2 separate regions of the Homo sapiens genome follow, and region 2 is linked to region 1. Evidence: fine-mapped expression QTL. A gene starts in region 1. The other region holds a variant in brackets. All regions are shown on one strand. Distances are from middle to middle.

Evidence for each region. PIP is the estimated chance that this variant, and not a neighbour inherited with it, causes the effect. A credible set is the group of variants that fine-mapping cannot tell apart.
Region 2: its variant is the best candidate, but not a certain one, in a credible set for the expression of NUP98 in whole blood (TOPMed, PIP 0.54).

Annotation. Positions count from the first base shown.
Region 1 is chr11:3,795,301-3,799,689 of GRCh38, forward strand. NUP98 (nucleoporin 98 and 96 precursor) reads right to left here and starts at 2,254. Exons shown (of 33, transcript NM_016320.5): 1 at 2,100-2,254. It also overlaps a transcript of PGAP2 not described here. RefSeq lists silencers at 1,931-2,020, 2,101-2,270.
Region 2 is chr11:3,701,837-3,706,225 of GRCh38, forward strand. NUP98 (nucleoporin 98 and 96 precursor) reads right to left here. Exons shown (of 33, transcript NM_016320.5): 22 at 3,364-3,520; 23 at 627-1,056. Among named protein-coding and RNA genes, the nearest start is that of CHRNA10, 33 kb to the left of the region's middle. RefSeq lists an enhancer at 245-744. The variant T/A (reference allele first, on the strand shown) is at 2,569.

The sequences.
Region 1 (4,389 bases):
CTGGGTATGGTGGTGCACACCTGTGGTCTCAGCTACTTGGGAGGCTGAGGTGGGAAGATTGCTTGAGCCCAGGAGGTAGAGGCTACTGTGAACCGAGATTGCGCCACTGCACTCTAGCCTGGGTGATGGAGTGAGACCCTATCTCATAAATAAATAAACAAATAAATGTCAGGGACCAAAGTATCACATAACATATAAACAGCAGGAACTATCTTATCTGGGCCCCATATTTCAGGAGCCTCTCTATTGACTACTGTTAGGTATAACTCCTCCATATTTGTCTATTCATTCAAGTAAACACACTTACTGAGGGCCTACTATGTGGCAAGCAACTGGACAACAAAGATAAGATGAAAATATTTTACCAGCCTAATTAAAAAAACAGCTAAAATAAAAATGATATGTGCTATAAATAGAAATATCAAATAAGTGTTATGGAAGCTTGCAGAGAAGAGAATGCCAAGAAAAGCTTCCCAGAAGAGGGTGATGCCTGAACTGAGAAAATGTCACGGAAAACATACCCTGTTCACGCTTTACTATTTAGACTACGGTTCTCTTCTGCACTACTAGTTCTGAGTTTATGCTTTGTCATCTATACAAGAACAAAGTAACAATCTTACTGATGTGTACAGAACCAAGTGTCAACTAATTCAATTTCATCAAATCTGAAGAGTCAAAAAGAATAATTTTACCCAAGTATTTCCCAGTACCTTTATCCTGTCCAACCTCTAGTTTTGGTTTTTAAATACCCTAACTTCCTCCACCAGGTAAACATACTGTAACCCAGTTAACTCGAGTTTCTTTTCGAATTTGTAAGACCGTCACAGGGAATGATCACTGCTCTCTTTTTGCTCTTTATTCCAGTTAGCTTCTTCCTCCAAAACGGAGTTTTATTTCCTCACCTTATTCTACTATAATACTTCACTTTGAATTCTGTACCTGAAAGGAGCCATGAGTTCCGAGGTACAACTACTACAAACGGACTCCTACCTGGCTTTCTAAGTCTTATCAATATTTCCTGCTTTCTATTCCAGTACTGTTATAAATCCCTAACTGACTCCGAGTCCTCATCAGCTGACACAAGTCAAAAAATTCAGATTTAGAAAGGGAAACAATGGCTTGTAGTTTTACCGATTTGTTTCCGATACATAACAACGCTGACGTTCTTTAACCATCTTCTAAGTTTAGTTCTCAAGCTCTAGGTTAGGGTACCACTAACGAAGCTTCCACCTTACCCGTGAACAGAGCTGGTAGCAACTAAACGGAAAACGCTGTGAAGACTACATCTACGTTTAGCTACCTAATGTCCATGCCGCACCGACCTCCTAAAGGGAATTCTTAATAATGGGAGACTGAAATATCCAGGGAGGGTGAGGTAGTAGAAAACTGTTTAGACTGTCAAAAATCTGGCATTGGCTAATCCTGCCTGTTACTCCGGGCCTCGGTTTCCCCATCTACAAAACTGATGTAAGGTAGGGGGATTGACTTAAACAATTTCTAAAGTCCTTATGGCTATAGTAATCCAGAAACTCAATCTGTCTCCTCATCTGGCTTTACACTGAACACGTGGGAAAATAGAAAAGAACCTTTTGCTCCACCGAACCGACTCCTATTCTCAGATATTATCTTAAAAATCTCCCAAACTTCGGACTCACCCTAATCCTCGGGGTGCCCACTTCCCTTATGGAGAAGCCAAGGCAAATAAAGCCCAGTCCCACATGACGGTCAAGGAAGTGCGGGGCAGACCGTATTCAGGGTTTCAAGGCGCTGACCCCGGAAAGGCCAGCCCACCGTGGGGTCCTTACACCACTGAATGAATGAGTACAACCAGACAGACACCCACTCGCGTGGGCAGCAACTGGAGACCTCCAGGCCTAGACCCCACTGATGTCCATTCTCTCCCAGGGCCTCCAAAGCCGGGCCTCCCGGGCTCCGGGCCCCCGGGTCCTCAGCACCGCCCCTCTCTCAGGCCAGAAGGTGCGCGCAGCGGCGCTAGACTTCGAAGCGGAGAGGCCCTGAGACGCCCCGCGCGTCCGCCCGCCCGGAAGGGGGGAGAAACCTGCCGGTCTCGGCCGCTGCAGCTCGGGCTCCCGACTTACCGCGGTTCGGTGGGGAAGGGGAAGTGTCAGGAGTCCCCTGCTGCCACCCGCCGCTCACAGAGCAGCGCGCGGCCCCCACGAAACCGTCGCCGCCGCCGCTACCACCCCTGCCACCGACCGCCGCTTCGGGCGCAGCGCGCAGAGGGCCCGACTGCGTCACACGCCGCCCGGCGTCAGAGGCTCGTTGCGGACGCTCCGCCCTCGCCGTCCGCGAATTGGTGGACGCGGCCGCCACTCTGGGTCGACCCTGTTATTCATTGGGCAACGCGTCTTTTGAAACCGAACTGAAGGGGGAAGGGGCGAGAGGGAAGAGGAGGGGCAGAAGGAGTTCGGGGAGGCACAGGGTAGGAGCGGTGAGAGGGCCGTGGAGTCCCGCCCCTCGCCGCCGCGGTTGGCGGGAGCGTGTCGTGACGTCACACAGGGCCTCTCGAAGTGGGCTTGTGAATGGCTAGATTGGGAAGCACCGGCGGGGTGTCGGGAAGGGTGGTGACGCAACATAGAGACTCCGCCCCCTTCCTTGGAGCGCCGCGACTCGGGCTGAGGGAGCTCGGGCCAATCAGAGGGACGGCCCCAGAATGGCATGGTAACTATTCGACCCTTTCCTTGCCCCGGTCCGCCGGCGCTGCTGGGAAGGCTTCCTAGTCTCTCTGCCCGCACTTCCCGCCCAGACCACGTGCGGAGCCTGAGGGCCCTCTTGGAAGGTCTGTCTGTCCAAAGAGTTTGCCCGAGGCTTCTTCAGGGCCCTAAATCCTGACCCTATTCTCTCCTGACCCATGCTCGCCCCAGCACTTTCTTTCCCTCCCTGAATTTCTAGGATGGACATTAGGAGCATTAGAGATGCCCTAAGGGACTGGCCCACCAAAGGGCCTGGTACAAATGAGGATTGTTGGAACGTCTTTCCCAGCTGCACGTGGAGAACCCCTAATTCTTTTTTTTTCTTTTTCTTTTGAGATGAAGTCTCGCGTTGTCGCCTAGGGTGGAGTGCATTGGCGCAATCTCGGCTCACTGCAACCTCTGCCTCCCGGGTTCAAGCGATTCTCCCGCCTTAGCCTCCCAAGTAGCTGGGATTACAGGCGTCCGCCACCAGGCCCAGCTAATTTTTGTATTTATAGTAGAGACGGGGATTTCACTGTGTTGGTCAGGCTGGTCTCGAACTCCTGATCTCAAGTGATCCACCCGCCTCGGCCTCCCAAAGTGCTGGGATTACAGACGTGAGCCACCTCGCCCATGAACTAATTTTTTTTTTTTTTTTTGAGATGGAGTCTTGCTCTGTCTCCTCTTTCTCCCAGGCTGGAGTGCAGTGGCACGATCTCGGCTCACTGCAATCTCCGCCTCCCAGGTACAAGAGAGTCTCCTGTCGTAGCCTCCCGAGTAGCTGGGATTACAGGCACTCGCCGCCGCGCCCAGCTGATTTTGTATTTTTAGTAGAGATGGGGTTTCACCATGTTGGCCAGGCTGGTCTCGAACTCCGGAACTCAGGTGATCCGCCCGCCTCGGCCTCCCACAGTGCTGGCCTTACAGGCGTGAGCCACCGCGCCCAGCCGAACCCCTACTTATTCTTAAAGGACGGGTATTTCAAATGTTCCCATCTTCTCAGTGATACATTTGCCAAGCTTTCACAGCGAGTTGAGCTAATGCTTGGGCAGGCCTCTGTTAAAGCCTTGTCACTTTGTATCCTATTATTTACCCTCGGTTTTCTGTGCCTTGGGCTCTTCTTGGAAGTCCTTCTGGGGCCTAGCCCATTAGCAGAAAACTGATATTACAAGAGTGAAAGGTGGGCATTTTCTAGAAACTAGACCTGTTTAGTGACTGAGAGTCTCATAGCAGGAACTGTGCGCAGAAAGCAAAGCGTATACTGGCCGGGCTGGTGGCTCATGCCTGTAATCCCAGCACTTTGGGATGCTGAGGCGGGCAGATTATTTGAGGCCAGGAGTTCGAGACCAGCCTGGCCAACATGATGAAACCCTGTCTCTACTAAGAATACAAAAATTGGTCAAGCATGGTGGTGGGCACCTATAATCCCAGCTGCTTCTCGGTTTGCTGAGGCACGAGAATGGCTTGAACCAGGGAGGCGGAGATTACAGTGAGTGGAGATCCTGCCACTGCGCTCCAGAGTGATCTCAAAAAAAATTTTTAAAAAACCTCCACCACTACTCCTTTGTGAGACATGAATGCAAAATTGAACTGGGCTTTTACCTAAAATGTAAATGAGTTTAAAGCCATCTGGGTTTTCGGTGATGGCAAGGGATTAGAGATAATTGATTTATTTGTTTGTTTAAAAAATGGGAGA
Region 2 (4,389 bases), 93 kb before region 1:
CACAACGCCCAGCTAATTTTTTTTGTATTTTTAGTAGAGACAGAGTTTCACCGTGTTAGCCAGGATGGTCTCAATCTCCTGACCTCGTGATCCGCCCATCTTGGCCTCCCAAAGTGCTGGGATTACAGGTTGTTTTTTATTTTTTCAAAGTCAACTTTAAAAATGAAGGATAGGCTGGGCAAGGTGGCTCATGACTGTAATCCCAGCACTTTGGGAGGCCAAGGTAGGACAATCACTTGAGCTCAGGAAACATTAGCTGGGTGTGGTGGCGTGTGCATGTAATCCCAGCTTATCAGGAGGCTGAGGCAGGAGAAGAGCCTCAGACTGAGAGGCAGAGGTTGCAGCAAGCTGAGATCGTGCCACCGCACCCCAGCCTGGGAAACAGAGCAAAACTGAGACTCAAAAACACACACACACACACCGGGGAAACAGAGCAAAACTGAGACACACACACACACACACACACACACACACACACTCTCTCTCTCTCTCTCTCTCTCTCTCTCTCTCTCTCTCTCTCTCTCTCTCTCTCTAGAAAGATGACAAAGCAGGGCCCTATCCTCCTGATTAGTTTTTTTCACCTATCATGTTGCCTTTCTCAAAAAGCATCAAGAAATGTGACTCACGGTTTAACAGCTACTGGATTGGGCAGGAATCCAAACTCCATGGAATCGGCAATCTGATGATTTTCTAGTTCATGAGAGCCATTCAGCTGTTCTCCACTATTAGCAAGAGTCCAGTTGGGGCCCCAACCAACACGAAATGAGCGTCCCATGAATAGGGCCATGTCCATCAAGAGTTTTCCCTTGCCATAGGTGACAGACTTTTCACGAGGGACTAGGCCTAGTTGCCTACGTGTACCCACTGTTTTCAACGGAACCTCAGGGGCTGGGCTGGGCATTGTGAACACAGAAGTCAGGGGTGGAGGGACAGACCAAGAGGATGTGGATGGGATATTCATTAAAGATGCTGCTCTGGGAGTACGACATTCTTGCACAGAGACACTTGGTGAAAGAAAAGCTCCACTTGTAAATTTTGATTGTAGTAACCCACCAACTGAAATGAAGCGGGAATGAAGGGGAGAAAGACTATTACAAAACACAAGCTATTGTTTCTTGAACAATAACAAAAATCAGTAAGGCTGAAATCATTCAATGTTTAATCAAACTACTTATATCAGATGTGGATGACCAGAAGCAGGCTAAGTCAGATTTTGCAGAAATTACTCTTTGAACTAGGAAATCAGGACAAGATTCTAATGATGATGATGATATCTACAACAATAATAAAAGCAACAACACTATTAATATTATTTAAAAATATGCAGCAGGCTCTGTATAAGTCATTTGTATATGTTATTTCATTTCACTCTTCAAAAACTTTTTTTTTTTTTTTTTGGAGACAGAGTCTCGCCCTGTAGCCCAGGCTAGAGTGCAGTGGCATGATCTTGGCTCACTGCAACCTCTGCCTCCTGGGTTCAAGCAATTCTCTGCCTCAGCCTCCCGAGTAGCTGGGATTACAGGTGCCCGCCACCATGCCTGGCTAACTTTTCTGTATTTTTAGTAGAGACAGAGTTTCACCATGTTGGCCAGGCTGGTCTTGAACTCCTGACCTCGTGATCCACCTGCCTCAGCCTCCTAGAGTGCTGCAATTACAGGCATGAGCCACTGCACTTGGCCTCAAAAACTTTTAAATGATTAGCATTATTATCATTCCTATTGTATATATGAGAAAACTGAGCTCAGATAAGTGACTTGTCCAAATCTACAAAGTGACAGGACCAGGAGACAAGCCAAGGTTAAGTCTGGCACCACTCCTCATGCCCTTATCAGAATCCTAAAGGTAACGATTTCTTAGCACATATAAAAGTAAGATCAAAACTCAAATTCCTACTCTACTCTAAACAATGCTACAGTCAACGAAATAAAAACACACTAGGTATCTTACAATTGTACATGTGACCTTCTGAAGGACAGTTCTTTAAAAAAAAATTTTTTTAACATTTAAATTTTTATCTAGCTAGCTAGCTATTATAGGGATGGAGTCTTGCTATGTTGCCCAGGCTGCTCTCCAAATCCTAGCCTCAAGCCATCCTCCTTCCTCAGTCTCCTAAAGTGCTATGATTATAGGCATGAGCCACTGTGCCCGGCTGAAGGACAGTTCTTATTACCAGTGCCTGTTTCCCAATTTTACGTGGCTTTTGTCTAAAGCATGGAGTTAAATATTATTGAAGTACCAGATTTTCATGTAGTATCCATTACGGAAAAGGTTATTAAGAATGTTTAACTGATACTTTTTTGGTTAATATATTTTCTTTCTTTCCTCTATACCAAAGGGAAGTTAAAAATATTTTTAAAAAGCAAAGTTGATAATAAGGGAACTCAAAAGAATTGAAAAATATTTAGTTTTTAAAGCAATATAAACAAATGTCTCTCTGCCAGTTCCTCTGGCTTTCAAAATATGTTGAAACTACATCTGCTTAAGTTCTTTGCTGATATTAAAACTTTATTTCCAATCCCACATAGTTACAAGCCCACTAGAAAAGAGAAAACTTTAAAATCAAATATG[T/A]AATCACTTCCCTGGGAATTTAAAAAGGTTTAGTGAAAAGTAGAAATCTGATGTGCTCTGTGCATTACGAGAAGCAATACTTGTCCCTAGAAGACAATAAGACAGTGCTGTAAGGACTGCACAAAACAAGTATAGTGCAGGACAACTTGCTGAACTAAGTAATGTTATAAAAATTGGGAAGTCAGAGCTTACTATCTAATCCACATTCATAAGCAAACAAAAACATGAACCTAAACAAAGCACAAATGCTTTTTTTCTCCATACACTTCTGCATCTGCACAAACAGAGGTAATTCTAGTTCTTAAAAACCGGCCACTCCTGCCAGGTGCAATGACGCATACCTGTAATCTCAGCACTTTGGGAAGCTGAGGCAGGATGATCAGTTGAGGCCAGAAGTTCAAGACCAGCCTGGGGCAAGATAGCAAGATCCATCTCTATAAACATTTAAAAAAATAATTAGTTGAGTAGTGGGTATATGCCCATAGTCCTAGCTACTCAGGAGGCTGAGACAGGAGGACTGCTTGAGCCCAAGAGTTCAAGGCTGTAGTAAGTGCGACTGCATAACTGCACTCCAGTCTGTGCAACAGAGAGAGACCCTGTCTCTAAAAACAAAAAACCTGGCTACTCTTAATGAATACTTATAAGTACAATTTCTCTTAGCACCCTTATGTCACAGGTATAGTTGTTTGGCAGATACTTGCTAGAGAAGTCCACTTGGGTTAGAAGAAGAAAAGTGAAAAGCAGGACTTGATGACTGTACAGCTTTCTTGTAAAATAGCATCTTTTATACTGTACCTAGTGAACGAGTTTTCGACGAGTGGGATGCTGAAATGGGGAGTCTGGGAGAACAGATTTCTTGAGAAGTATCTGCTTTGGAAGGCAGGCGACTGAAGCGTTGATCCAGTGCCATATCTACATCTTCTTCATCAGTAAGCAATGATGCTTTCATGATCTAAAAAGGCAATATCTATAGAATGAATGTGCTTCCCAGAATCAAAAGGCCATACCAAAAAAAAATGCAGTTTACAACAACCAAAAATATTGTTCCTCCTCAAGGCTGTGTACAGAGCTAGTATATTTGTGTGATGGATGGACCCCATTACACTGTGTGTGCCTGAAAGGCAGAATTCATATAATACTTCTCTTCTTTGTATCTATAGCGTCTCACCAGAGCCTGGCACACAGCAGTTGCTATGTTTGCTGATAAAATAATTTTAAAGTCAAACATAAGCCAAAGGTTAAACACATAACACACCAAAAGGCACTGGGATAAAGGGAAGTAAAGACATAGCTTAAAGAAACCTGTGCTACTAGGTACTAAAATTTTTAAATTTTGTGGAGCACATACAGAGTCTTAAAAGTACCCTGTGATGTAGACAAAGTAATATTTTATAGAGAAAAATCAGTACTCACAGCTATTATATGACTTGCACAAAGTAATAAAGTTACAAAATTGGGATTGGGGCCGGGCTCAGTGGCTCATGCCTATAATCCTAGCACTCTGGAAGGCCAACGCGGGCAGATCACCTGAGGTCAGGAGTTCGAGACCAGACTGACCAACATGGAGAAACCCCTTTCTCTACTAAAAATACAAAAAAAAAAAAAAAAAAAAGTAGCCAGGTGTGGTGGTGGTACACGCCTGTAATCTCACCTACACAGGAGGTTGGGGCAGGGGAATCACTTGAACCCAGGAGGTGGAGGTTGCAGTGAACCAAGATCACACCACTCCACTCCAGCCTGGGCGACAGAGCAAAGAAACTCTGCCTCAAAAACAAAACACAACAAAATTGGGATTGGAACTAGGACTCTGGATTCTAATGC